Homo sapiens: one gene and its partners. The protein of the gene in region 1 purifies or fractionates together with the protein of each later gene. This does not show direct contact. Each region holds a gene or a part of one and is shown on either strand. Other genes may lie near its edges. The genes, in order: DNAJC6, MYH13, REPS1, GULP1, HK3, ACBD3 and PEX2.

What was found.
Region 2: the proteins of DNAJC6 (region 1) and MYH13 purify together in Homo sapiens (affinity purification with mass spectrometry; one large-scale study listed by BioGRID and IntAct). This does not show direct contact.
Region 3: the proteins of DNAJC6 (region 1) and REPS1 purify together in Homo sapiens (affinity purification with mass spectrometry; one large-scale study listed by BioGRID and IntAct). This does not show direct contact.
Region 4: the proteins of DNAJC6 (region 1) and GULP1 purify together in Homo sapiens (affinity purification with mass spectrometry; one large-scale study listed by BioGRID and IntAct). This does not show direct contact.
Region 5: the proteins of DNAJC6 (region 1) and HK3 purify together in Homo sapiens (affinity purification with mass spectrometry; one large-scale study listed by BioGRID and IntAct). This does not show direct contact.
Region 6: the proteins of DNAJC6 (region 1) and ACBD3 purify together in Homo sapiens (affinity purification with mass spectrometry, with the first as the bait; one large-scale study listed by BioGRID). This does not show direct contact.
Region 7: the proteins of DNAJC6 (region 1) and PEX2 purify together in Homo sapiens (affinity purification with mass spectrometry, with the first as the bait; one large-scale study listed by BioGRID). This does not show direct contact.

The regions. Positions count from the first base shown.
Region 1 is NC_000001.11:65,382,309-65,386,361, forward strand, and holds part of DNAJC6 (auxilin), read left to right. Parts: intron 1-1,884; coding exon 1,885-2,018; intron 2,019-3,403; coding exon 3,404-3,598; intron 3,599-4,053. UniProt on the Homo sapiens protein: May act as a protein phosphatase and/or a lipid phosphatase.
Region 2 is NC_000017.11:10,299,959-10,303,832, reverse strand, and holds the end of MYH13 (myosin-13), read left to right. Parts: intron 1-334; coding exon 335-439; intron 440-541; coding exon 542-637; intron 638-2,129; coding exon 2,130-2,264; intron 2,265-2,867; coding exon 2,868-2,882; 3' UTR 2,883-2,968; downstream 2,969-3,874. UniProt on the Homo sapiens protein: Fast twitching myosin mediating the high-velocity and low-tension contractions of specific striated muscles.
Region 3 is NC_000006.12:138,977,771-138,981,823, reverse strand, and holds part of REPS1 (ralBP1-associated Eps domain-containing protein 1), read left to right. Parts: intron 1-4,053. UniProt on the Homo sapiens protein: May coordinate the cellular actions of activated EGF receptors and Ral-GTPases.
Region 4 is NC_000002.12:188,571,200-188,575,252, forward strand, and holds part of GULP1 (PTB domain-containing engulfment adapter protein 1), read left to right. Parts: intron 1-4,053. UniProt on the Homo sapiens protein: May function as an adapter protein. Required for efficient phagocytosis of apoptotic cells. Modulates cellular glycosphingolipid and cholesterol transport. May play a role in the internalization and endosomal trafficking of various LRP1 ligands, such as PSAP.
Region 5 is NC_000005.10:176,889,347-176,893,399, reverse strand, and holds part of HK3 (hexokinase-3), read left to right. Parts: intron 1-1,849; coding exon 1,850-2,012; intron 2,013-2,208; coding exon 2,209-2,363; intron 2,364-2,458; coding exon 2,459-2,578; intron 2,579-2,669; coding exon 2,670-2,765; intron 2,766-3,655; coding exon 3,656-3,755; intron 3,756-3,835; coding exon 3,836-4,019; intron 4,020-4,053. UniProt on the Homo sapiens protein: Catalyzes the phosphorylation of hexose, such as D-glucose and D-fructose, to hexose 6-phosphate (D-glucose 6-phosphate and D-fructose 6-phosphate, respectively).
Region 6 is NC_000001.11:226,159,087-226,163,139, reverse strand, and holds part of ACBD3 (Golgi resident protein GCP60), read left to right. Parts: intron 1-1,450; coding exon 1,451-1,609; intron 1,610-3,781; coding exon 3,782-3,956; intron 3,957-4,053. UniProt on the Homo sapiens protein: Involved in the maintenance of Golgi structure by interacting with giantin, affecting protein transport between the endoplasmic reticulum and Golgi. Involved in hormone-induced steroid biosynthesis in testicular Leydig cells.
Region 7 is NC_000008.11:76,989,751-76,993,803, reverse strand, and holds part of PEX2 (peroxisome biogenesis factor 2), read left to right. Parts: intron 1-4,053. UniProt on the Homo sapiens protein: E3 ubiquitin-protein ligase component of a retrotranslocation channel required for peroxisome organization by mediating export of the PEX5 receptor from peroxisomes to the cytosol, thereby promoting PEX5 recycling.

The DNA of each region.
Region 1 (4,053 bases):
TGTTATATATTTAGTTGAGTTGAGGCTGAATATCTGCTTCCAAAGGTAGGTGATTAATGGATCACCTTTCTCCTGGGAGAAGGCTTTATTTAGTTATTCATTTTAATCAACAACTTTGATGAAGATGTGGAAATTCAGCTTATCAATTTTCTTAGAATTATAAGGGTCACATAGTGAATTTGGATTTTAAAAGTTCTTGTAGGTTGGTCACTTAACAAAAATTAATAATATGAAATTAAATACAAGATAAATGTAAAGTCCTGAATTCTGGTTTTAAAAAATTAAACATATTTGCACATTACCTTAACATGTCATCTGGAAAAAATCTAGGGGTTTTAGTGGATAGAGAGAATAATAAAAGCTTATGTTGTTACTTAGCCTACATTTATACTAGCTTGGGCTGGGGTTATGTTAATAAAAGCATAGTGTCCAGAATAAAGAAGATGATATTTCTTCTCTAGTTTGGTCAGAATATATCTCATATCTTTCATTTCACATCTGGGCAGCATTTAAGGTTGTCATTTTAAAACTTGAATTTGTTTAGAAGAAATGTGCTAAATGATGATGTCTCTTAAAATGGAAAATCAAGTGAGGAAGAATAGAAGGGATTGAGTTTGTTTTAAAAGGGAAATAGAAGCATTGATAGAAAGGGAGGGTATTTCAGATATGTGAAGGACTGCCATAGGAAGAAAGGAGTAGGTTTATTTTTTGTTCTCACAAAAGGATGAGGGTCATTTAGTGGAAGCTATGGAGGAATGAAAGTCAACTCAACATATTCAGTATAAGGAAGAGCTCTGTAAACTGGAATGGGCTACTTCAAGTATGAGTAATCTCCCTGTCACTTAAAGTGTTCTAGAAGAAGCTAGGTCACATCTGTCAGGGATGTTACTGAATTTTGTCTTAATTAGCTTGAGCTGCTGTAACAAATATACCATAGACCGGGTGGCTTAAACAACAGGAATGTAGTTCTGGAGGCTGGAAAGTCCAAGATCAAGGTGACTGCAGTTCTTTTCTTTCTTTTTTTCTTTTCGAAGAGTTGGGGTTTCACCATGTTGCCCAGGCTGGTCTCGACCTCCTGAGCTTAGGCAATCTGCTCGCCTTGGCCTCTCAAAGTGCTGGGATTACAGACATGAGCCACTGTGCCCAACCAAGGTGCCTGCACTTGTAATGTCTGGTGAGGGCCTGCTTCTGGGGTGGCAGATGGCTGTCTTCTTGTTTTTCACATTGGCCAAGGGCAGAGGGAGTTGACAGCAAGCTCTTTTGTCTGTTCTTATAAGGGCACAATTCCCATTCATGAGATCTCCACTCTCCCTACCTCATTACCTCCCCAAAGCTCCACCTCCTAATACCATCACATTGGGGTTAGGATTTCAGCATATGAATTCTGGGGCATACAAACATTCAGTCCACAACAGATTTATTTCTACATTGAATGAAGTTGAATCTGGTGAAGGTTCTTTATTTTATACGAATCTAGGAACATACTTTGCATGAGATACATATATGCCATATCCCAACAAGCAGCATTTACCTAACCTGTGAGCTCGTTACTTCCAGTCCTAAACCAAGAGACTTCAACTATTAATTCAACAAGTCCAAAATTACTTTGAAGATTATATTATTTTTCACCAAATATATACAAATCAAATTGGGCTTCTCAGATTAGAATCAATTTTATTCTAAGGATAAGTCTTTCCTTGCTGCCTTTGATTTAAAAAGCTGAAACAAATTTTGGTTTTCAAGTGAATAATTTTTAAATGAAAAGCACCCACAGTTAAGAGGATTTCTCCTCTCTCTGTCTCTTAATTGCAAATTCTGCCATTTTCAATGGAGAATGGCTGATTTGATCATGTTCATAATGATTTTATGCATTTTCTTTGACAGGATGGACGGGCGGCATCATCAATTCTGGTTGGTGCTATGTTCATTTTCTGTAATCTCTACTCTACTCCTGGCCCAGCCATTCGATTGCTATATGCAAAGCGACCAGGAATTGGACTTTCACCATCCCATAGGAGGTAAAGTAAGCTAGATGCAGGCTAGGCACAGATGTAGTCTAATTGGTATCATGTACTGTTTTAAATCTGCCTTACAAATCCTTTCATAAGTTTCTTTTACTTTATCTCTGTATTAGTCCATTTTAATATTGCTATGAAGAACTACTTGAGACTGGGTAATTTATAAAGAAAAAGAGTTTCAATGGATTCACAGTTCCACATGGCTGGGGAAGCCTCACAATCATGGTGGAAGGGGAAGGAGGAGCAAAGGCACATCTTACATGGTGGCGGGGAAGAGAGCGTGTGCAGGGAAACTGCCCTTTATGAAACCATCAGATCTCATGAGACTTATTCACTATCATGAGAACAGCATGGGAAAACCCGCCCCCATGATTCAATTACCTCCCACCGGATCCCTCCCACAACACGTTGGGGATTATGGGAGCTACAATTCAAGATGAGATTTGGATGGGGACATAGCCAAACCACATCAATCTGACATTATCCTGAACTATGCAAAAACTGAATTGGATTAGGATATTAGATTGTCATTCAGTTTGTAAGCCCCCATACGAAAATTTATGATGTTAAAACTAGAAGGAAACTTTAAAGAATACTTATATCCAACTTCCCTCATTTTACAGGTGAGGAAACTGGGACTCAAGACAGGTTGTGATTTGCCTCAGGTCTAATGCCCAGTGGACAGAGCCAGAACAGCATTCTTGATCCCAAGCTCTAAGACCAGTCCCTTTTTGTTTTATTATACAGGTCTTTATTGAAAAACAGCAGTAGCTGGTTATACTTATCACTGGTGATCCTCCTGTGGGAAACCTGATTTAACAAAGGGAAATGCAAAAATACATAGAGAATAAAGCGTTTTAAAATTCACTTTTTCATGTAACTCTGATATAGAAATAAAAGATTACAAAAGATAATCTGAAAAATGGAATAAAAAAGAAAACTGTTTTTAGATAACATTGATTTTTCTTTTATCACAATTTCTTCATTTTTTTAAAAACTACATCTCCTTAATTTTTTGGATTAAAAGTGCTTCTGATGATAAAATTCTAAAATTTATCCAAAGCCAAATTTTAGCTGATAAATTGGATCTGCTAGATAAAATAGGAATAGATGTTCAAATATTGAAGTACTATAAAATTCCCATAAGCTTTTTGATTTAATAAATACCCCAGTATCAGTTCATTGGGGAAGTACAGCAATCTCAGTAGATAAAATGTTTCCTAAATTATTGATCGCATTATCTTTTGCTAGTTAATATTTAAGAAATTGATAGAATAAGTTTTTATTATAACAGTAATTTGCAAGAAGAATCTTCATAGCAAATATTGATTGCTTGCTTCTCCTGATGTGATGGGCCCCAAGAGAGTGCCAACCTTCTGTTTCAGATACCTGGGCTATATGTGTGACCTACTGGCAGACAAGCCCTACCGCCCTCACTTCAAGCCTCTCACAATTAAGTCGATCACTGTCAGTCCAATACCCTTTTTCAACAAACAGAGGAATGGATGTCGCCCTTACTGTGATGTACTCATTGGAGAAACCAAAATATATTCGACTTGCACAGATTTTGAACGAATGAAGTAAGTCATGATACTTTACTTCTTCCTATGTACTTCTCAATTCTCATGTAAATGAGCAGGAATGAGTTGAATCATATTCTTCCTGCAAGACTATATCATTGTGAAATAGCTGATATATAAAAAATGTTCAACATCAGTGGTAATCATAGAAAAGTACAAGTAAATCAGGGGATGTTATGGCCCTTTTTCAAATGAAACCATGATATAGGCTAAGGGACTAGCATAAGCTGTATACAGGATTAAGACCAAGGGGAACATGGGACACCTGGTCATTGAAGAAGGAGATGGCCTTGATGGGATTAGGTGAGGGTAATGGAAGAATCACTGATGAATGAGGTTTCTAAGTGAGCAACTAGGTAGACGGTGATGTAATTAAAGAAGTTACAGAATCCATAATAAAGAGCAGGTGCCAGTGGGTGGTCATAGGGGATGTGGAGAGAAGGGAGTGGGTGGTA
Region 2 (3,874 bases), on another chromosome or scaffold:
AGTAAACATATATGTGCATGTGTCTTCATAGAATGATTTATAATCCTTTGGGAATATACCCAATATTGGGATTACTGGGTCAAATGGTATTTCTAGTTCTACATCCTTGAGGAATTGCCACACTGTCTTCCACAATGGTTGAACTAATTTACACTCCCACCAACAGTGTAAAAGTGTTCCTATTTCTCCACATCCTCTCCAGCATCTGTTGTTTCCTGACTTTTTAATGACCATTAGGGGATCTTGAGTTCACTCTAGAATGATTGGCCCATGAGTCCATGAGAGAAGCCTGGGAGAGGAGATTTGAATTCTGTGTTCCTTTCATCCTACTCAGGTGCGGGAGCTGGAAAATGAGCTTGATGTGGAACAGAAGAGGGGAGCTGAAGCCCTGAAGGGAGCCCACAAGTACGAACGCAAAGTCAAGGAGATGACTTACCAGGTAGGGGTCCCAAAAACCTCCTCAGTGAATGCTGTATGGACCAAGCCCCATCAGAAGTGACCATAGGTTTGCGGGCCCCTGCCACGTGTACTCTGTTTGCAGGCTGAGGAGGACCACAAGAATATCCTTAGGCTCCAGGACCTGGTGGACAAGCTGCAGGCCAAAGTGAAGTCTTACAAGAGGCAGGCTGAGGAGGCGGTAAGCACAGGAGGTCCCCGGCAGTGCCCACAGACAGACAGTCCCTGGGGCATCCTGGGTGTCCCCGCCATCCTGGTTGGTAAAGTCCCCTGAGCCTCAGGCCTGAGTTTGTATTTGCAGGCTATAAACACAGAGACAACTGCCCTCTTCCTCTCCTGGTCCATGTTAAGCCTTCACGACCTTCACCATCTCTGTGCCCTCTTGCCTCACCCTACTTGGCCAGCCCCCTCCATCCCCTTCATCCTGCCCACCGTGACTCACTTGACACCCCCTAGAGCATGTTAGCCTACTCTGCTGGCGTTGGATCACCCTGACTCTCCCGAACCACCCCAGTCTACCCTCAAAGCCATTCCTGCTCCCATGACCTGACCTGAGATACCTCATCCTAATTCCCACCATCCCACCACAGCCCACCCTCCTAGGCATCTCCAGCCTTCCTCAGCCCTCCCTAACTCCCTCCACTCCATCCCATCCTTTTTCATCCACCCTTTGATCAAATAGGTGAAATCAATAGGAAAGAAATGGAATGGGCTAAAATCAGTGTTTCCCAAAGTGTCTTCTGAGGACACTGGTTCTGAGGGATGTTAATAGCAGGAAGGTGGGGCTGCCATGGGGAGGAGCTTATCCTTTTATAGAAAAGAGATCGTTTGGGAAAATCTGAGTTAAACAAAGTTACCCTGGTTGCTTTACTTCAAGGATATCTCAGATTTTGTAGATGTTGTAGAGTTTGATATGTCATCAACTCTACAAAGTGGAAGAAGGGTTCCAGAATATACCATTTCTCACTCTTCATTGACTTTAGAACCTTCTTATTGTATGCAGAGCATCCCTCAGGGCTACTGTTCTGAGGACCAAAATTTAGGGGAGTCTGCCCTGGACAAATGACTGAGCTTCTCCCATTGCTCTTTTTCCTCCCTTCCCTGGAGCCTGGTTGGTTCAATCCTGACCTCAGGGAAGCAGATTTGAACTGGTTCAATATTGAGAGCAATTCACGCACATGGGATGAGTACAGTCCCAGCAGGATCGGCAGGCTAGAGGGTGCCCAGGAGGACATTTTAGTCAGGAATCCTTGACATTCCCCCAAATAGACCAGTACAGTGGCCTGGCCTTAGACAGATGGTGCTGGGCAGAGGCACAGGACGAGGGAGACTTGGGCCATTGGTCTCTATACCTTCAGGTGCCTTGGGAGAGCTCTGGACTTAGGTCTCCCCCGAAGATCTCTATGGAGCAGATACCATATAGAAGAGATTCAAGGGAACATGTGGAGGTCCTAGAAGGGACAGTAGCACCTGCAAGGTGATCCGAGGCAGTACACATGGTCGTGAGCTGGGAGCCTTGTCCTCACACGCTGGAGAAAGCTTCCCTGCCCTCTCTGCCATCAGGGAATCCAGGGCCCTGGTTGCTTAACTCCTCAGAGGCCTTCAGAGACAGGGCACCTCATAATCGGACTGAGAGGCTCTACAGCGTCATACCCCCTCTGTCTCCTGTGCAGGAGGAGCAGGCCAACACGCAGCTGTCCAGATGCCGGAGAGTCCAGCATGAGCTAGAGGAGGCCGCGGAGAGGGCGGACATCGCTGAGTCCCAGGTCAACAAGCTGAGGGCCAAGAGCCGAGACGTGGGCAGCCAGGTAAGAGCAGGTACCTGAGATATAGGGGCCAGCTAAGAACAGATATTGAATATGGGGGCCAGGTAAGAGCGAATGCCTGAGTGTGGGAGGCCAGATAAGGGCAGGTACCTGAGATGTGGGGACCAGGTAAGAGCAGGTACCTGAGATGTAGGGGGCCAGGGAAGAGCAAGTACCTGAGTATGGCTTCTTCCCAAGAAATCCCAAGCCCCGGGGGAGTCCCATGGACCACCCAGGGAGAGCTTGGAAGATGACTGTTGATCCTCTCCTTCCTGCTGCTGGTTGCACACTCCCAAATGCTACTGTTTGAGCAAAGACTCCTGTGGTTCCAGGCTCTTGAAAGAATGAGCAGTGAGGCACGACACTGTCATCCCTGTCTGTCCCTGTTGCTACAGATGCTGCCCATGAAGCCCCTGTTTTGCAGGGCGTTTGTCCTGTCGCCAGTAGCTAGATTGATTTGCTTTTACAATGTTCAAAGGGAAACAACGCCATTCCTTAATATTCCTCTGAAGTTCCAGATTTTCCAGCTGCTTCACTTCAAGATGATGTTCAGTCTCCCATTTAGTTGACTCATTTCCTATGTACAATTATTTTTTTCTCCCACAGAAGATGGAAGAATGAGGCTCACCTGATGCTCGTTGCCATGGGACACCTCCGAGAGAGTGGAGGGAAAATGTGTGAGAAATAAATTCTCCTAAATACTCGGATTCCCGGCTCTGCTGTGTTTATTATCATGGTCCATTCCTCTTCTATGAAGCTGATATTTAGATTCTTGCTGCTCTATCGTAAATATAAAATAAGGAATGTGAAAGTGGAGGATCTTTGCTCCAAGTAGAAAACATGGAAATCCAACCCATGGCCAGGTAAATCACTAGCTTCCACAAACATTTAAAAATAAAGACCCTATATCACTCTACATCTCTCAGAATAGCTATTATCAGAAAGACAAAAGTGTTGGTGAGGACGTGGAGAAAAGGGAACTCTTGTGCACTGCTGGTGGGAATGCAAATTGGTACAACCTAATAGCAGTTTTTCAAAAACTTAAAAATGGAACTACCATATGATCCAGCCATCCCACTACTGGGCATATATCCAAAGGAAATTGAATCAGGATCTTTTTTTTTTTTTTTTTTTTTTTTTTTTTTTTTTTTTTTTTTTTTTTTTTTGAGACGGAGTCTCGCTCTGTCGCCCAGGTCGGACTGCGGACTGCAGTGGCGCAATCTCGGCTCACTGCAAGCTCCGCTTCCCGGGTTCACGCCATTCTCCTGCCTCAGCCTCCCGAGGAGCTGGGACTACAGGCGCCCGCCACCGCGCCCGGCTAATTTTTTGTATTTTTAGTAGAGACGGGGTTTCACCTTGTTAGCCAGGATGGTCTCGATCTCCTGACCTCATGATCCACCCGCCTCGGCCTCCCAAAGTGCTGGGATTACAGGCGTGAGCCACCGCGCCTGGCCTGAATCAGGATCTTGAAGAGATATCTACACTTCCATGTTTATTGCATCACTCTTCACAATAGCCACAATGTGGAAACAAACTAAATGTCCATCAATGGATAAATGGATAAAGAAAATGTGTATATACATATATATGTATATATATATACACGTATATAT
Region 3 (4,053 bases), on another chromosome or scaffold:
AGCTGGTATAAAGAGCACTAACTGTGGGAGGCAAGTTCCAGTTCTGGCATCAGCTAACTTTGTAACCCTGAACAAATCACAGAATGTCTGATATAGCTATGGGATTGGGTTTTCATGATTTCTGACTCAAATGAGAGTATCTTTGTGTAGGAGCGGCTAATCTATTCCAGCCACACCCCTTTAAAAGTAGCACAAAGTCTTGTGGTTAGTTGCTCCACTATCTTGACACTGGAACAGGATTATTTGACATTCTTTGAGGAATACAAAGAGGAGATATATACAAGAGGAAACTGATGAAAGGGTCATAAATCCATGGGTGCTTAGTTCTTCAAGGTCGTGAGAATTTGAAATGGGTGATAAGACTTGTCATTTCTGATGTTTTCCCTTATATAGGTTTTATTTTCTGTAGCCTTTCCTATTATAGATGCATCTTCACTCATCTTTTCCCTCTGTGTAAGAAATTTGTCTAATGGAAGTTAAACTGTATACCAGATTTCATTGAGATTTGATAAATTCTAAGACTTAGGCTTTTTAAAATTAAGAATACTACATCTCTTCTGCATTTTGTTTCAAGAATTAGCCAGGTGTTGAATTTGGGGTCTGTCTCATTAAATAATGAAGACAGAATTTATTAGTCTGTCTCTTTTGGGCTGTTGATTCCGTTGAGATTCTGCTGCACGCACTGGACATCTGCTTAGAAAACATAGTTCCACAGAATTTTGCACTTAATTTGTGATTTCCAGCCTTCCCCTAATTGAGTCAAGCTCATCTTATGGACTTCTACATTAATTCAGTTTTAAGGAAGAGCAGGCTGACCTGTGAAATGCTAAACACTTCTGTCTTAAATCAGTTTTAAATACTTTCAACAAAGACTTCTTTGTGGCTGTTCTTTGTATTGGGGGTATACATGCAGTGGTGAAGGATCAAGACATCTTCTCTGACTTGTGCCAATGTCGAAAAGAAAAAGAACTGGCCAGGCGTGGTGGCCTGCACCTGTAGTCCCAGCTACTTGAGAGGCAGAGGCAGGAGGATCACTTGAGCCTGGGAAGTTGAGGCTGCAATGAGACATAGTAAACATAGTAGTGTCATTGCACTCCAGCCTGGGTGACAGAGCAAGTCTCCGTTCCCCCCCCCCCCCGCCCCACCCACAAAAAAAAAAGGAAAAAAGAACTGTGTACAATAATAGAGAATCATTGGGTGGTAGAATCAGAGGAGGTAGTGGGGACCTACTTAGGTGTAAGGGAAGGCCCCTTAGAGGATGCCTGGATGGGGGGTCAGGGGAGGGAGAATAAGGTGTTTCATATAGAGAGAACTGGGAAGGGCCTGAGGCTGTGAAGAGCACAGTGTGTTTAAGGAACTGAAACTGTGGACAAGAGGGGAGAATGGCAGGGACTGCATAAGGCAGGCCCTTGTACTCAGTGATAAGGAATTTGGATTTTAGTGGAAATATACTAAAAGTTTTTATTCGGGGGTGTAGCATCATCTGAATTATATTTTAAAAGATCATGCTGACTGCTGTATGAGCAAAAAGAATACTGGGGGCAAGTGGAAGCAGATACGCTAGTGGATATGCAACAGTCCAGGCAGCAGACAGCAATGGCTTAGATTAGCGAGGTGGCAGTAGGATAGAGAGCAGTGGACATCTGTGAGAATTTTTTAGGTGGTAGAAATACGAAGGCATAAATAGGGTTGGATATGGAACATAAGGGAGGGGAAAGAACTCAAGGATGTTGCTGGAAGTTGCCACTATTGGATGGTTGGAAGAGGAGTGGATTTTGGGGGGGATTGTTTCGTGGGAGAGGTAAGGGTGAATTCAGCAGTTCCCCTTTTGTCTATCTTAGTTCTCAGAAGCCTGTAAGATTGTCAAGTAGGCCTGTTAGAGAGATCTATACATCTTGAGGAATTCAGAGATACTTGGCTTAGAGATGTCAGTTTGAAGATTGTCACTATGTTAGTGATACTTAAGGTAATGAAATAATTGAAGAAAAGATTATAAAGAAGAGAGAAAGATTGACTAGAACTGGAATCCTGAGGAATGCTGAACATTTCTAAGTTGGGTAAACTGGAAGGCTTCTTGGAAGGACGCTAGGAAGCACACAATCAGAGTGGTACAAATTGGGAATGTGTAATATATAGTATTATCATGTCGTGGATGCCAAATAATGCAAGTATTTCAAGGGGGTGGGTAGTCAGCTGTATTGAATTTCACTGAGAGGCTGAGAACATGTGGGCAGGAATGTGGCCATTGGATTTGGCAACCTGGAAGTTATTAGTAACTTCAGTGAGCCAGTTTCATGGACTAGTGTAGATGGATGCCAGATTTGAGTGATTTGAGGGATAAATGATGGCTGAGGAACTAGAGACAGGGTGTATAGATAGCTTTTAAAGAAGTTTACCTATGAAAGGGAATAGATACAGGGTAGAAGCTAGAGATGTATGAGGATATAAAGGAAATCTTTTTGTTTGTTTCTTTTTGAGTGTGAGAAATTCTGCAGAATGATTTTAGTTGTTAGGATTGCTAAGATAAGGGAGATGAGAAGTCCTTGAGAAAGCAGGAGTGGTCAGGATCCTGACTGCACAGAGTCCTTTGATAGGAAGGGGATACTTCTTCAGTTTTTTTTTTTTGTTTTTTTTTTTTTTTTTGTGATGGATTCTCGCTCTGTCGCCCAGGCTGGAGTGCAATGGCCTGGTCTTGGCTCACTGCAACCTCCGCCTCCCGGGTTGAAGCGATTCTCCTGCCTCAGCCATCAGAGTTGCTGGGATTACAGGTGCCTACCACCACGCCTGGCTGATTTTTGTCTTCTTAGTAGAGACAGGGTTTCACCATGTTGGCCAGGCTGGTCTCGAACTGCTGATCTCGTGATCTGCCTGCCTTGGCCTCCCAAAGTGCTGGGATTACAGGCATGAGCCACCGTGCCCGGCCACTTCCTCAGTTTTAACAGTGGGGAAGAAAGAACAACATGGTTACAGACGCAAGTAGGAATATAGATTTAGTGGGTGGAATATAGATTTAGTGGGAGGATGTTCTGGCCTAATGGCTTTTATTTGTTTTCTACAAACTGAGGCAGGATTAACAGTGTAGTAGTAACATAAAATCTTAATATGAAAGTAAGAAAAAAATACATTCACATTAGCTTCAAAGAGGCCTAACATACTTGGGAATAAACTTAAGAAAAGAGTCACCAAGATTTTTGTATTTAAAACTACAAAACAGGGCTGGGCACAGTGACTTATGCCTGTAATCCTAGCACTTTGTGAGGTTGAGGCGGGCAGATCACTTGAGCCCGGGAGTTTGAGACCAGTCTGGGCAACATAGGGAGACCCCTGCCTGTAAAAAAAAAAGATAAAATAAATTAGCTGGGTATAGTGGTGTGCACCTGTGGTCCCAGCTACTTGGGAGGCTGAGGCAGGAGGATGGTTTAAGCCTGGGAGGCAGAGGTCAGGGAGGCAGAGGTCAGAGAGACCCGAGATTGCGCCAATGGACTCCAGCCTGGGCAACAGAGCCAGACCCTGTCTCAAAAAAAAAAAAAGAAAAGGAAAAGAAACAAATAATTGGGCTTTATTAAATATTTTTAAAACTTTTACAATTGAGAAGATACTTAAGAAAGTATAAAAAGATAAGCCACAGATTGGGGAGAAATATTTGCATATTATAAACATGGTAAAGGTCTTTAATCTAGAATATATTTGAAAAATCTTACAACTCACTTATAAGGAAAAAAAAAAAACTGGGCGAAAGCCCATTCTTAGGCTTAAGCCCATTGAATAGGTATTTCACCAAAGACAACAATAAGAATGGCCAATAAGCATATGAAAAGATGTTAACCCCATTAGTCATTAGGGAAATGCAAATTAAATCACAGTGATATACTATCACACACTGACCAGAGTGGCTGTAATTAAAAAGACTGACAATACCTAGTATTTGTATTGTTGAGAAACTGGAACCCTTAGGCACTTCTTGGGACTGTAAATGACACAGCCACATTGGGAAACAGTTTGGCTTTTTCTTAAAAAGTTAAGCATAAATTTGCCATAGCAACCAGCAGTTCC
Region 4 (4,053 bases), on another chromosome or scaffold:
AAAAGAAATTTGTTGCAAAATTTTTTATGGAAGCTTATTGTGCTTCAATACGTAGGATAAACTCAATGAAAATGTTCATTTCTTAATATCTAATACTAGAATCATTCACAAGCTCATCACTATGAAAAAGGATGTTTCTATAGAAGTTTCATTTAGGGTTTCAAACTTGGCACACTCTGGAAATGGGTCAAAAAATGATTTTTCCTGTAAACTCACATTTTTCCACCTCCCATTTGAAAGAGTGAGTATTTCCATTGCTTGGCAGATGGTTTGTGCCAGTAGGGCTCCTATGGCCTTGATGAGAGAGGTTGGGACTGAGGTACCAATGTATCTATGCTGGAGCATCCTCTTCAGGTTCTGGTTTTATTCTGATATTCCTTCTTATTTTTTCTTGTCACTGTCTGCTGCTCACCAGGATTATGATTTTTTTCTTGCCTCTCTCGCTGCTAGGGACAGAACATCAGTTCAAACTCATTATTCAACCTTCCATCCCAAGATGGAACACACATCCTCTTGGGTTTTGTTGAAATTCATATTGTAAGCCATGTTGCGAAATATGCTAGGAGAATAAGAATAAATGTACTTCATTTATGTGAAGGGAAGTAACTTTTTCAAGGAGTTTTGATAACGTAGTTGTTTCTGGAATTCATCACATATGAAGAGTAGCTTTGCTTTCATTTTTGTGTTGACAAAGGAGTAAAATAAGCTCCATCACCTTCTTGGATGCAAATCCAAACCTGGTCATTGTGTAACCTCTTTATCTGAGGAAGAACATTTGAGAGGAGCAAAGAGGTTTCAAACATATTAATAAAACTGCAGCCTACCTTTTTTATCTTCCCAAAGCAGACACTGCTCTGAGAAGAAGGTGGGTCAGGATTATTAATGTGCATTGGTGATCTCATAGGGTTACTGAGTCAGCTTCAGAAATGACAAAGGACAGGAGGAATGACAAGATGACCCTTGCTTCAGTGTCTTTGACCATTTGGCTGAAATAGCCATTTCAAGTGGAAAGCATGCAAGTTGGTATATAAATGAAACATAGCCTATTCATAAGTATAATTCATTTATTTAGCAATTCTCATTAGTAGAGCCAGTTATATATAAAGAGTAAAAATAATGAAATAGCTATGTTTTAAAATGAATTAGCACTCCTGAGGTTACATCATTTAACAATTATTTTAGGCATTGTGTTCATCTCAGCCTGGATTTATCTAAATAAAATGCTTCAAAAACTACAACTAAGAGGTTGAATTTAAAAACAAATCACTTTCTTTAAATCACGGTCTTACACTGAGTTCATATATATGTAGAAAATTTATTGTATCCTTGATCATTATGGAAATAACAAATTATAACTTTGCAATCTACTTATAGTCTTTTGTCATGTAATGTTGTTGTCTACACTTTTTCTTTAACTTTAAAAATTATTTGTCACATGGCTTTTTAGCTCTTAAAATCTTATCATATGATTTTTTAAATTGTTGATATGCTGGAAGATATACATCTTCATTAAGATAGAATCTGGAGGACATTATACTAAGTGAAATAAGCCATGCACAGAAAGACAAATATCACGTGATGTCACTCATATGTGGAATCCAAGAAAGTCAAACTCATAGAAGCAGAGAGTAGACTAGTGGTTGCTGGGGGCTGGGGCAGAGTTGTGGAGAAAGGGTCTAGAAGATGATCAAAGGATGCAACATTTTAATTAGGAGAAATAAGTTCAAGAGATCTCTTGTACAACATGGTGATTATAGTTAATAACAAGGTATTATATACTTGAAAATTGCCAAGAGTAGTTTTAATTGTTCTCACAACAAATATGTGAAAATAGAATTTATTTGATTTTTAGAAGAAAGTGAACTCAAGAGCATTTTAAAATTGCTAAAATTTAAATGTAAAATTAAATGCTAAAATGTAAAATGTAAATTAATGAGATATCTAACCAATTCAAATGGTTTAAAAAACATTGTTACAGCATTTGCTAATGTGTTTCCTATTAAAAAACATTTTTGCCTTTCATTTCAAATTTTAGTAATGTAGCTATGAAATAAACTCGTAGAACACTTAAGTACAGCTTATTTATCTCATATCTATTCAAATGAGCTCCCAAATTCCTGATATTAAAATAAAACAAAAATAGTTACCTGCAATTATTTTTGAAGATTTATTAATGATTCAGATTATTGAATTTGAAAAACAGACAATGCAAATTGCAAATAATAAAATGTGAATTTAAAATATTTAATAGCTTACCATGTGTCTGCAATAAAGCAAATTTCTGTTAAGTTAGAAATGTTTTACATCTGTTCTTTCTTATGAAATTTGAACATCAGTTTTACAGGACACACAGCAGGAACACAAAGTACCTCACAGAGTGCCCCCATGGCTAGCAAAGTAAATGTTTAATGAGTTTATAACCCTGGAAATAGGACTCTGTGGGTTTTATGTGTTTGTTTTGAGCTCAGAGGACTGAGGATTAGAGTGCTCCAAAATGAGTAAGTTCTCATCAGTTTATTCAAAGGATTAGAGGCAGTGATCTACACATTCATTAAAGAAGCATTGAAGTAAATTATGAATCCCGTGATGCATATTGAATTACAACATAGGTGGGTATGGTGTATGCAATTAATTTAGCATCTGATGAGTTTTTAGTGGTGAGAGGAGCCCCTAACACAGAAAACTCTTCACAACTGACCAGCCCAAGACAGGTCTTGATCCCATTGGAAGCCAAATTTTTCAAGTCACAGAAAGGTGACACTTTTGTCAAAAATCTCTAATTGAGGTGTAGTTCTTTATAAATGATTTAATGCTATAATTTGGTTCACAAATATATACTTATAAGCACAATAATGTTCTAAAATATCTGGATATGCTGGTCTAACACAATATAGTTCACACTAAGCAATTGCTAGTCAAATAAAAGACATATTTAATCTTAGCTTTAGTATAGTCTCTTTGGGGAAAGGGAAAGAAAAAAAGTAGGAATGGAATTTTGGGAGTTGTGGAATTAAAAGTAAAGTGAAAATAAAAATAATGTAAATCACTATTATAGATATTATTTTATTTTCAGTTTATGATGAAGTAGAAGATGAAGCCAGATGTGGCAAGCAACAGAAACATTCTTGATAAAATTTGATTAGGCTGGGCATGGTGGCTCATGCCTATAGTCATAGCACTTTGGGAGGCAGAGGTAGGCTGATAGCTTGAGTCCAGGAGTTGGAGACCAGCCTAGGCAACATGGCAAAGCCCCATTTCTACCAAAAATACAAAAATTAGCTGGGCATGATGGTGCATGCCTGTAGTCTCAGCTACTTGGGAGGTTGAGGTGGAAAGATTGCTTGAGCCGGGGAGGTGGAGGCTATGGTAAGCCTGGGAGGTCAAGGTTGCAATGAGCCGTGATCATGCCACTATATTCCAGCCTGGGTCACAGAGTAAGACCCTGTCTCAAAAACAAACAAACAAACAACAACAACAACAAAACTTGGCTAGATAACTAAAAAATGACAAGCCATCTTCTCTAACAAGAGGTCCAAAGTTAAAGTTGAATTTCCGTAATACAAGACAATGATTCAAATCTACCAAATCGTCTAATAATATATTACAGTCTTATTGATGTTGATATCCTTATTCTATGTTAAATCATAAATTTAAAATGTGAGGCCCAATGCAGTAGAATGATCTACATGGACACCTTTGTATTTTAAAGAGTCTCTGTTTAGGTGAGAACATACGTGCATGTTTCTACTTTCCTCAGAGACACTCTAAGGGAAGGTTGCTATTTCTTAGAAAGTTTGTCAGTCACTTATATGTTATATACATGAACATGAATTGGTCATACTGATGGATTTTGAATTGCAAACTAAATAATTTTAGGTTGAAGCCTTGAATAAAAATATTCAAGACTTCTAAAAAGTTCCCTCAAGGTTTTATGGTGTACATTTTAGTTTTGGTTTTGGTCTTCCTAGTCCCACTGCTTCATCACTGGGATTTTGAAATTGTTCTTAGTAGTAGACCGTATGTTACAATGCATATCACTTTAATTTTCATTTT
Region 5 (4,053 bases), on another chromosome or scaffold:
AGAGCCAGAAAAAGGGAGTGCGAGGACTCAGCTGTAAGTTTTCTCAAGCCGGATCATCTGGGGTTTCTTTCCAGCAACTTTCATCAGCCTTGAGTTCTTTTCAAGGGAACTTTCTAGGTTTTATAAAGCTTCACATTGACATAGAAACATCTCTGCATTCAGGTAGATATGGGTTCAAATTCTCCCCTGCCCCTTCACAGCTGCTTGGCCCTGCAGATGACTTGCCCTCTCGGAGTCTCCGTTTCCATATTTCTAACACTTGGGCAGCTGGGGCTCAGAGGGGCAAGGCTGAGACCCCGCCTGTCCTGCAGCTCTTTGACTTTGCTGCCCACTGCCTGAGTTCCTGGATGTGCAGCCTGTGAGCAAACAGGGTCTGCAGCTTGGCTTCAGCTTCTCTTTCCCTTGTCACCAGATAGGCCTGGTCAGGGTGAGATAGAGTGGGCATGGGCACCCCTAGCAGGCATGGCTGCTGGAAGCATGTGCTGTAAGGCAAACGTGTAAGTGGACATCTGGCACCCCAGTTAGGATGATTCGCCTTCTTAGGGATCTGTTTCCCATTCTCTTCCTAAAGCAAGAGGTGGGACTGAGTTGTCCTTATCTCCCTCAACTGGCAGCTTCTCCTCCCAGCCTCTCCTCCCTGGAGCGGCCTTATTATCCAGGTGCCTGAGTTGTTATTCCAAAGATAAGTGTCCAGTTTGGGGCAATAGGTCATTGAAATGGAACTCCTGTGTGACAGGAAGTGGGGGCTTTGGAAAGTCTGAGCCTGAGGAGGATGGAGTTGCCAGGCTGTGACCCTTCAATGAATCCAGGGAGGCTGTTGGGGCTTCTTTGAAGGATGGGTGAGAGAGTCATCTAGGGGAGGGTATTTGCTCACAGGGATGAGGTCCCTGGGGCTCTTAAGCTACTGGGCTTCTGGTGGAGTGACAGCCTGGGGTGTCCTGGCTTCTGCCTTCCCTGCCTTCTCACCTGCCCCTTCAGACTCCGATCCACTCCCGGATCAGTCTTCTCCAAATCCATCCCCTTGCTCTTCCCCTGGATCTTCGAATGGCTTGTTCCCTTCCTTCATTTAGATCACCTCCTCAGGGAAACCCTCTTGAACTCATATCTAAAAATACCTCTTTCTACCCTGGTCACTCTCTAATTTCTTATCCTGCCCCCCTACGTTTAATAGCCACCATCACTACTGGAACCAAATTGTATGTTCACGTGCTTAATTTCTGTCTCCCACCCTGGAATCTAAAGCATTTGTTGCTTCTTGGGTGGTTATGTGTGTGCGGTGCTTAGAATACAGCTGGGTGCATAGTGAGGGCTGGAGCAATGTTTTGGGAAGGATGACTGACTGAAAAAAGGACCATCCTCTGCAGTGTGGTCTCCAAATGCTCTCGTGCTGGGCTTTTTCAGGCTTCAGAGTCTGAGAGTGGATTAGGAGAGGGAAACACTTGAAGTTTGTTCGTGCATTTGTTTATTCTCTTGTTCGTTCAACAACAACTCACTGAGAGACTCTTGCTGTGGGTCCTGGGGAGCCAGAGAGCAATCATTAGTGGTATGGCAGGAAGAAGGTCTTGCCAAACCCTGAATTCAAAGAAGAGGAGGGGTAGGGTAGAGGATGTAAGAAATTGAGAAGGAGCCGTGAGGTAATGGGGCAGGAGGAGGAAGAAGGTGGGTTCTCTTTCCAGGACAGAGCCTTCTGAGGATGCCAGAGCTGGGTGCAGGCTGTTGGCAAGAGAGTCAGGGTGTATGAAGAGCCGAGGAGTGGGCTGGGCAGGGCAGGCCTCTGCCTTGTTTGGAGGTGGGGAGTCTGGCCAGCCCAATGGTGCTCCTTCCCAGATGTTGGCCTGTTTCTCCCCAGGTGCAGGAGTGCCTGCAGCAGTTCAAGGTGACAAGGGCACAGCTACAGCAGATCCAAGCCAGCCTCTTGGGTTCCATGGAGCAGGCGCTGAGGGGACAGGCCAGCCCTGCCCCTGCGGTCCGGATGCTGCCTACATACGTGGGGTCCACCCCACATGGCACTGGTGGGTATCATAGATTGAGATGCGTGGCCAGGCCTGGAAGAGGGTACTGATCTAGGGGAGGGAAACGTTCCTTATTCCTGTCCCCCATCTCTATGGCCCCTTGACCAGACTTTGCAGGCCTTAGGAATTTGGGAAGTGGGCAGAGGGCTCTGGTCTTGCCAGCTGCATGGCTTTCTGTGACCTGCTTGCCCTCCAGAGCAAGGAGACTTCGTGGTGCTGGAGCTGGGGGCCACAGGGGCCTCACTGCGTGTTTTGTGGGTGACTCTAACTGGCATTGAGGGGCATAGGGTGGAGCCCAGAAGCCAGGAGTTTGTGATCCCCCAAGAGGTGATGCTGGGTGCTGGCCAGCAGGTAAGCACTCACTGCCCAGCCTCTGGGGTCTGGGGGCCTGGCTGGGTGGCTAGGGCTCAGATGGGCAAGGCTGAGCCCCCCCACTTCTCCTGCAGCTCTTTGACTTTGCTGCCCACTGCCTGTCTGAGTTCCTGGATGCGCAGCCTGTGAACAAACAGGGTCTGCAGCTTGGCTTCAGCTTCTCTTTCCCTTGTCACCAGACGGGCTTGGACAGGGTGAGGTGGAGTGGACATGGGACGCTGGGTAGAGGGTGGCTGCAGCCCCATGAAGGCCGTCAGAGGAGTAACCCAGCTTCTCTACCTCCAGAGCACCCTCATTTCCTGGACCAAAGGTTTTAGGTGCAGTGGTGTGGAAGGCCAGGATGTGGTCCAGCTGCTGAGAGATGCCATTCGGAGGCAGGGGGTGAGTGGAGGGAGGGGTGACAGGAGGGCTGCCCATGTTGGCCTGGGCCTGGCACACATGCGTTGGGTCTGGGCTTCTGAGAGAGTTGCTTTCCTCTTCTCTTCATGTCCTCCATCCAGTTTAACCTCCATCCAGTTTAACCTATACATGGTACATGTTGCTACCATTCCCATTGTATAGGTTAAAAAACACTGAGGCTAAGAAAGGTCAAATAAACATTCAGGACCTGGGGCAAAAAAACATGAATAGACTTTGACCTCCTCCTCAAGGTTTTCACAGTCTAGATGGGGAAGCATTCTAATAAAAGATTGTCCGTGTCAAGGAGGAGTGCGTGGACAACTCTGGGAGCACTACGGAGGAAGCACTGGCTCTTTGATCAGGGGCTTGAAGGAGGAGTTTGCCTCCCTTCAAGTCAGGCTGGGGCTGGGGCGGATGATCTAGTCTCAGAGAAGGCCACACACAAGAGTCTGGATGCTGGACAAAGGCTGATCCGTCTGGGCTAACCTCTTGTGGTGAGAAGCCAGTGCTGGGAGGAACAGGCTTGGGGAGCCAGGCAGGATGACAGTGAGGCTGGCAAGGCGCAGAGTTCAAGGAGGTGCTCAGTCTCAGGAAACTCATCCTGGTCCTGGGAGATGGTGAGGGTGGACGTCACTGTGACCTGGGGGCGCAAGTTGGGGGTTAGGGAGGAGCTGAGGGTGGGATTGGAGGAAAAGTTCCTATAAGGTGGGAGCCCAGAGCATCTGTGGCACAAATGTGTGTGGCATGCAGACATGTGTTTCATGGACTCTATGTATCTCCTTCAAAGCCAGGGCCCCAGCCCTGCCCATCCCCTGGATTCCCTCCTCTGGCCACTCAGGCCAGCCTTGACCTCTGCCCTCTTCATCATCTAGGCCTACAACATCGACGTGGTTGCTGTGGTGAACGACACAGTGGGCACCATGATGGGCTGTGAGCCGGGGGTCAGGCCGTGTGAGGTTGGGCTAGTTGTAGGTGAGCCATGGACCATTTGTGATGACAGGTGGAGGGTGTGCTGCCTGGCTAGCAGGCCTTGACAGGGTTGTCTCTGCCAGACACGGGCACCAACGCGTGTTACATGGAGGAGGCACGGCATGTGGCAGTGCTGGACGAAGACCGGGGCCGCGTCTGCGTCAGCGTCGAGTGGGGCTCCTTCAGCGATGATGGGGCGCTGGGACCAGTGCTGACCACCTTCGACCATACCCTGGACCATGAGTCCCTGAATCCTGGTGCTCAGAGGTGACCTGGCAGGGGGCCCTGACCTTTGGTTCCA
Region 6 (4,053 bases), about 160 Mb from region 1:
GTGACACATTAAAAGTAGGTCATGGCCGGGTGCAGTGGCTCACGCCTGTGGTGGCTCACATCTGTAATCTCAGCACTTGGGGAGAACGAGGCGGGCAGATCACTTGAGTCCAAGAGTTCAGGACCAGCCTGGGCAACGTGGCAAAACCCCATCTCTACAAAAAAAAAATACAAAAATTAGCCGGATGTGGTTACAGGTCCCTGTAATTCCAGCTACTCAGGAGGCTAAGGTGGGAGGATCATTTGAGCCTGGGAGGCGGAGGTTGCAGTGAGCCAAGAATGTGCCACTGCACTCCAGTCTGGGTGACAGAGTGAGACCCTGTCTCAAAAAAAAAAAAAAAATAGGTCATGTTATTACAATATTTTGAGACTTGGCTGTGGCTCAGGTAGTTGTTAATCACTTATAGGAGTTAGAGGGGAGAAAGGTGAGGTAGCCCAGACAATTCTCGTGGTAGGTTTATGAAATAGTGTCTTATCTGATACTCCTTAGAAATCTTCCCTTTCATCCTGTCTGCAGGCTCCCTGAACACCATACCACTCTCAGACCCGGAAGATGTCCATTCCTAGCACAATAGGATCTGTTCTTTTTGGAAGGGTCTTGTGGGGTGGGTGAAAGCTGGGCAAGGGCTGCCCTGAGAGGTTAACCGTTCTTTTTTAAATTAAAAGCTTTACAAAAAATTTTAATTTCAGAAATAATACACAAATATATGCAATATAAAATTTTCATTTATGGCAGTATATGAAACACAAACTGAAAAAAATCTTTTTTCCCACATTTCTTTTAATTCCACTCTCCTCTGCATAGATAATAACTGATAAATTTAGGGTATGTCCTTCCAGATCTTTTCCTTTGTATTCACCTTTTTTTTTTTCATTAAGCAAGTGTATTACATGTCTTTACATATTAGGCAATGTATTTCTATCCTTTGGCTCTGCGATATTTCAGGGTGGATTTTTTACTTCTGTACACGTTTGTCGAGTGCTTGTTCTTTCCAGCACTGTGCTAAGCCCTGAGGATGTCGTGGTGTGAGATAGGCAGTCTCTTCCCCTATGGAGCATCTAGTTTAATGGGTAATGCAGATCTATTGCTGAATGTATCACACAAATTTAATTATAATGACAGCAGGTATTATGAAGGAAAAGCTTTTAGTGCTGTGAGCATATATTAGAGGGGATCCTTCAGGGTATAGGAATATCATAATGACTTAAGTAGTTTCTTATGATGGACACATTTCTGTTGCTGTGCAACAATAATTATTCTTGATGTGATTTGTATATTGTGCGATTGATTCCCTATAAGTTTCTGCTAGTAAAGTGTATGTATTTTAAATTTTGATGTATATATCCACATTGTTCTCTAAAAAGGTCATGTCAGTTTTCCCTGGGAGCTAAAGTTTTATTTTTAAACAGGATTCAACGTATAGGGTTCATTCTCTATCTTTGCCTTGTAGGAAGGAGGAAGAGGAGCGAAGGCGGCGTGAAGAGGAAGAAAGAGAACGTCTGCAAAAGGAGGAAGAGAAACGTAGGAGAGAAGAAGAGGAAAGGCTTCGACGGGAGGAAGAGGAAAGGAGACGGATAGAAGAAGAAAGGCTTCGGTTGGAGCAGCAAAAGTAAGTTTATTATGTGGCTTATGTTTTAAAATGAGAAATGGAAAAAAAATAGAATAAAAATAAGAAATGAGCGGGCCAGGTGTGGTGGTTCACGCCTGTAATCCCAGCACTTTGGGAGGCGGAGGCGGGCAGATCACCTGAGGTTGGGAGATCACCTGAGGTTGGGAGATGGAGACTATCCTGGCTAACACAGTGAAACCCTGTTTCTATTAAAAATACAAAAAATTAGCTGGGCGCAGTGGCATATGCCTGTAATCCCACCTACTCAGGAGGCTGAGGCAGGAGAATCTCTTGAACCCAGGAGGTGGAGGTTGCAGTGAGCCGAGATCGCGCCATTGCACTCCAGCCTGGGTAATGAGTGAAACTCCGTCTCAAAAAAAAAAAGGAATGTATTAGAAGGTTTGGGGGTTCACTTGCAGAACCCAGAGATTGGAAGCAGGAGCTGAGGTTGCTTGGTTGCGCTCTCTGTTTCTTGTCTCTGCTTCTCTCAGCTTATGTCTCTGCTTCATCCTTGCTCTCTGCAAATTGTCAACTGTCTGCTTTGGCATATGCAAGGCTGTCCGAGGATTTATTTGGTCTATGTTTCCATGCATCTGACAGAGACTGGCTGGAATCTGTGAGACCCAGTTGCAGTTTCCCAGGACAGAGAATCTTGTTGGTCCAGTCTATGTCAGATATCCATTTATAGTCCTTAGTACAAGATTTGGAGGCTTCAACTATTGCTTACTCAGTAAGGGCTTTGAGACTCAGAGACTGACAGGTTCTTCAAGAGGGAGCTGTGGGTACAAGGAGGCAGTGATTAACACCCATAAAACACTGGGAAGTAAGTCTGAGTTTGTAGGGGTGGCATGGCTTGTAGGTTAAACCAGAGAACATGAGAGTCCATTGATTTCTTCTCATTATTTCTGGGTAGTTCCTCAGAAAAAGGTTTAGTGCTAGCCTCAAACTAATCCAGGCCCTCATTCAACTTTGGAGAAAGACTATGAATGCAGCTCTTTTTTGGGGGAGGTTGTCCTAGGTGGATCGAATGTTGTGCTGTATGTAGGAGTTTGTGAGGCTTTGCTTTGTTATCTATTAATAGATGGCTTTGAGGTCTCTGTTAAGTTGGTCACATAAGTAAGTTAAGAAGCATGTGGTTGCTGGCTGTGGTGGCTCATGCCTGTAATCCCAGCACTTTGGGAGGCCGAGGCGGGCGGATCACTTGATTGAGGTCAGGGGTTTGAAACGAGCCTGGCCAACATGGTGAAACCGTCTTTACTAAAAATATAAAGATTAGCCAGGCGTGGTAGCAGGTGCCTGTAATCCCAGCTACTTGGGAGGCTGAGGCAGGAGAATCGCTTGAACCTAGGAAGTGGAGGTTGCAGTGAGCTGAGATCACGCCACTGCACTCCAGCATGGGTGACAGAGTGAAACTCCGTCTCAAAAAAAAAAAAAAGAAGAAGCATGTGGTTTATCTATAAAAGAATATGAGTATCTCTAAACTAAGCATGCCAAGATATTTTCAGTATTTCCTCTATTAAGACAGGCTTTAAATTAAATGCTGTGGACCCTTAATTTTTCACTGGCTTTATTTATACTTACCAGGGCCACCTGTAACATCTTCCAGCTATTCTTCTGCCTCTTACTGTTTTTTATGTATTTAGGTACAGAAGCCATAGCCAACAGTTAAATACCTCATCTATGTCAGAGATGACAATCCATCATCTTAAAGCATCGTGGTAAATTAGTGTAGCTCTAGAGCCAAACTGCCTGGATTTGCATCAGGCTGTAGCATCTGCTAGCAGTATAGTCTTGGGCAAGTTACTGAACCCTCTGTCAGAGGGTTGTTGTGAGGACTAAATGGGTTAGTATGTGTGAGTACTTTCAACACTGCATGGCACATAGTAAGGGCACAATAAATGTTAATAATTATGATGGTGGTCATGATGATGATGATCATATGCTTATCTTCCATCCCGAATTTTCCTGGAAAATCCTAAGTAAAAAATTAGAGGCCAGGCTTATTTTCTTAAATCTTTCTTCTGGACCCAGAACACATACTAATTGGTGTACATTACTAGCTTAGTTGTTTTTAAGAGTTACAGACTGTAAAAGTAAGTAATAAGGACATTTTATTTTGTCATGAACAATCTCCTGTAGCCAGACTAGTATATATATTTTTAATGTTTTTAGGCAGCAGATAATGGCAGCTTTAAACTCCCAGACTGCCGTGCAGTTCCAGCAGTATGCAGCCCAACAGTATCCAGGGAACTACGAACAGCAGCAAATTCTCATCCGCCAGTTGCAGGAGCAACACTATCAGCAGTACATGCAGCAGTTGTATCAAGTCCAGCTTGCACAGCAACAGGTACGATAGACAACCCTAGAATTCAGCCTTAGAGAGAGTTTTTAGTTTCATTGGAACCCAAGTTCTTTTTTAACAGTCGCAAATGAATTTTGCATTA
Region 7 (4,053 bases), on another chromosome or scaffold:
TTAGTATAGGTCGAGAATTGCAGGAGTGGGTGGCTGGTAGGATTGTGTATGAAAAGGTAGAATAGGAAAAATCTATTAGAATTAAATTTAATGGTGGTTCAATTCAAAGCAATTCTTTTTACAAAAAGCAGCTTGTAATTTTTAAAAATATTCAAGTTTGAGCTTACATTTATAAAACTAAATACTAATTTACAATGACCAATAATATAGAAATTGTTAAAGCTTACTTAAATGATTGAAGGTAAAGTCAAAATAGACTTACCAGTGGTTGGGCATGGGTGTTGGCAATCCTTGTAACAGAAGTAAGGAGAGTACTAGTTTACCAAAAGCACTGGGAATTTTTGACCCAAAAATGTGAAAGGATAGTATAGTCTTCCTCTTGATTTCCATGGTTCTTAAGTAAGTTAAATTACTTTGACTTTTCAGGGAAGTTGTTAGCATCATAGGTAGGCCCCTGAATTGTTGCAGGAATCCTATAAATCTGGTCTCCCAGAACGGCAGTTTTTCTTTTCTTCAGTTTTATTGAACTCTGCCGTCAGATTAATCTTTTGAAATTTATATCCCATTATGTCTCTTCTCTTCAATGATTATTCATGCCTACAGAATCAATACAATTTCCTTAACACAGGTTCTTTTTACAATGTGGCTAGGTTGACACTTCAGCCAGTCTCTCCTGCCAGCCTGCTTTGGTCATGACAGATGACTTGTCTCCTTCCAGATAACAGATGCAGCCACATTGACGGGGGTTAAATAACCAAGGATGTAGCTCATGGTGCAACTCATGTCCGTATGTCCCAGCTAGGCTATGGTCAGGAGCTTGCTATTTCTGGGCTTTCACACAGCCTGTTCCCTTGCCTTACATACCATTTTCCTCTTTTCTCCCTGGAAAGTTTTGTGATCTTTTATAATGTTTTCACGTTTTGGGATCCATTCTTCACTTCAGAGATCAATGGCCAGTCCTGATTTCCTATGTCTTTTAAAATGCTTGAATAAAAGGAAGCTAGCTGACAGTTAAATATTTAGATTGAATCTCTAGTACCTAGGAGAATGCCTTGTATTTGATAGGTGTCCAGTATATATTTGTTACATTGAGTAACCATTTGTCAGAGAATTAGAATTCACTAAAACACAAACTGCTTACACTATATTGGGAATAATTTTATGTGATATAAAGTCGTTTATGGCATTTATGCTTCATACCTATTATAACAAATCTTGTTGTACTGCTGTAGAGGGAAGAAGATTCCATAATTGGGTTAATTGAATTTCTAGTTATTTTGATTTCATCATTTTCTTCTACTCCTTTGCTGCCCTTTTCTAAAGAGAGTATTCTAGAATAGCTGTACCTGCCAGAAAGAGAGGAGTGGGGTGGGAGTATGTGTGATGAGGAAGAACTGAATGTAATATGCTGGTGATGAATACAAGTTTGTTGCTTGTCTTGGACTGCCTGTACCATGTTGTGTGCAGCAAAGCACCCTAGAGTCAAATATTGTAAGTGTGCATTCATGAGGTTTCTTTACTTCAAGATAACAGGCACAACTATGTTGATAGGGGCTAAATAATGACAGGAGCAGGTCATGCGGGAACCCATCTCTTTTCTCTATCCACACTGTGTCATATCCTTTCAGACAAGGTGCAAGTTAAGTGGGCAGTGAGTTCCACTGAACCATCATATCTCTGCCCACTCCTGCCTGGCCCCTCCCACGTGCACACATAAGGGTGACATTATGTTTGTGGTTTAACTGCCACAATTTATGTCTTAATGATGTCAATATTTCCTGGAAAAACATTTTGATACAGGTTGATTGAGGCATTACTATAACTAACAGTGAAGGTTTCAGTCTTTCGAAATGAGATTTGCCAAAATTAGTTTGGGGCCTGTTACTTTTCATGCTCATCCCTAGCCAAAGCAACAATAATGTAATAAATAATACTGCTTTATGGCTTCTAAACCACTTTCGTAACATTATCTGGTTTAATCTCAACAACTTTGTGAGGTAGCTGTTATTTCCAACTTTTAGGAGAAGAATCCGAGGCTAATGAAGTTTTTTAAGATCTCATAGCAAGTAAGTGACAGAGCTAGAACTTGAGCCCAGGCCTGTTTGATTTTAAATCTGCTTTTTCCACTCTGTGACAGATGCCTAAAGAAGAATGTAGAGCATGGGAGAAGTATTCCACTTTAATGAACTATGGTGTGTAATAGACAGTGTCTGTTCTATGTTTACAACTAAAAGAAGTCACAAAAATGACTAAAATGTTGGAAAATAAAACCTAAAACAAAAAATAGAGAGAAATTATTCATCTGGAGGAGCAAAGGCTGAAGAACAGTTTAATAATAGTCTTTTGGTCTATTAAAGAGTCTTACGTAGGGAGGAGAGCAAACCCAGCTGTTCCTAATCTACACTGAGGCCAGGCCTGGGGAGGAAAAGAAGAAAGAAAAAAATGTTAAACTGTAACAGAAGGGATAAGAAAGAATTTTTTGATAATAAATATTGTTAAATATTGTATTGGTTAAAGACCGTTTTAGGTCTCCTTTTCTGGCAGTCATTAAAAATTCCTGTTTTTACTGAATGTTTTTAAGTGTAATTCCTCCAAAAACAAGAAACTTGAAATAGATGATTCTTCTGACAAACCACTCACTCTGACCAGTTTCTCACTAAATATCACTAAGGAACCTGAGGAAGAGATGCAGTTATGAGTTGCTTATCAAGGGGGTACATTCTGAGAAACGCATAGTTTGATGATTTCATCATTGTGCGAACATCATAGGGTGTACTCACACAAACCTACTTGGTATAGCCTAGTTCACACCTCGTTATATTTTACTGTGCTTTCTTCTGGTTTGCAGATACTGCTTTTACAAATTAAAGGTTTGTAGCAAACCGAGTCAATCAAGTTTATCTGCACAATTTTTTTTCCAACAGCATTTACTCAACTTGGTGTCTCTGTGTAACGTTTAGGTAATTCTTGGCAATATTTCAGACTTTTTTTTATTATGATATTCTTAGTGGTGACCTGTGATCAGTGATCTTTGTTATTACTATTGTAACTGTTCTGGGGCACCACGAACTGTATCCATATAAGATGGTGAACTTATAAATATTCTGGGGCACCAAGAACTGTATCCATATAAGATGGTGAACTTAACAAATATTGGGTGTTCTGACTGTTCTGCTGACTTGCCTATTCCCTAAGACACAACAATGTTGAAATTAGGCCAATTAAGATAAGCCTACAATGGCCTCTTAAGTGTTCAAGTGAAAGGAAGGGTTGTACATCTCTCACTTTAAATCAAAATCTAGCAATGATTTTGCTAGATTTTGCTAAGCTTAGTGAGGAAGCCATGTCAGAAGCCAACACAGGCCAAAAGGTAGACCTTTTATACCAAACAGCCAAGTTGTGAATGCAGAGGAAAAGTTCTTGAAGGAAATTAAAAGTGATCCTCCAGGGAACACATGAATTAAAGAAAGTGAACAGCCTTATTGCTGATGATGTGGGACAAGTTTTAGTGGTCTAGATAGAAGATCAAACCAGCCACAAAATTCCTTTAAGCCAAAGCCTAATCCAGAGCAAGTTCCTAACTCTCTTCAATTCTTTAAGACAAAGAGGTGAGGAATCTGCAGAAGAAAAGGTGGAAGCTAGCAGAGGTTGGTTCGTGAGATTTAAGGAAATAACCATTTATGATATAAACATGAAAGCTGAAGCAGCAAATGCTGACATCAGAGCTGCAGCAAGTTATCCAGAAGCTTTAGCTAAATAATTGATGAAGGTGACTACGCTAGACAATATATTTTCAAGATAGACAAAAGGCTTATATTGGAAGAAAATGCCATGTAACACTGATAGCTAGAGAGGAGAAGCCAATATGTGGCTTCAGAGCTTCAAAGGACAGGCTGACTCTCCTGTTGTGGGTTAATGTAGCTGGTGGCTCTTAAGTTGAAGCCAGTGCTTATTTACCATTCTAAAAATTCAAAGACCCTTAAGAATTATGCTAGAACTACTCTGCCTGTACTTTATAAATGAAAAAAACAAAGCCTGGATGACAGCACATCT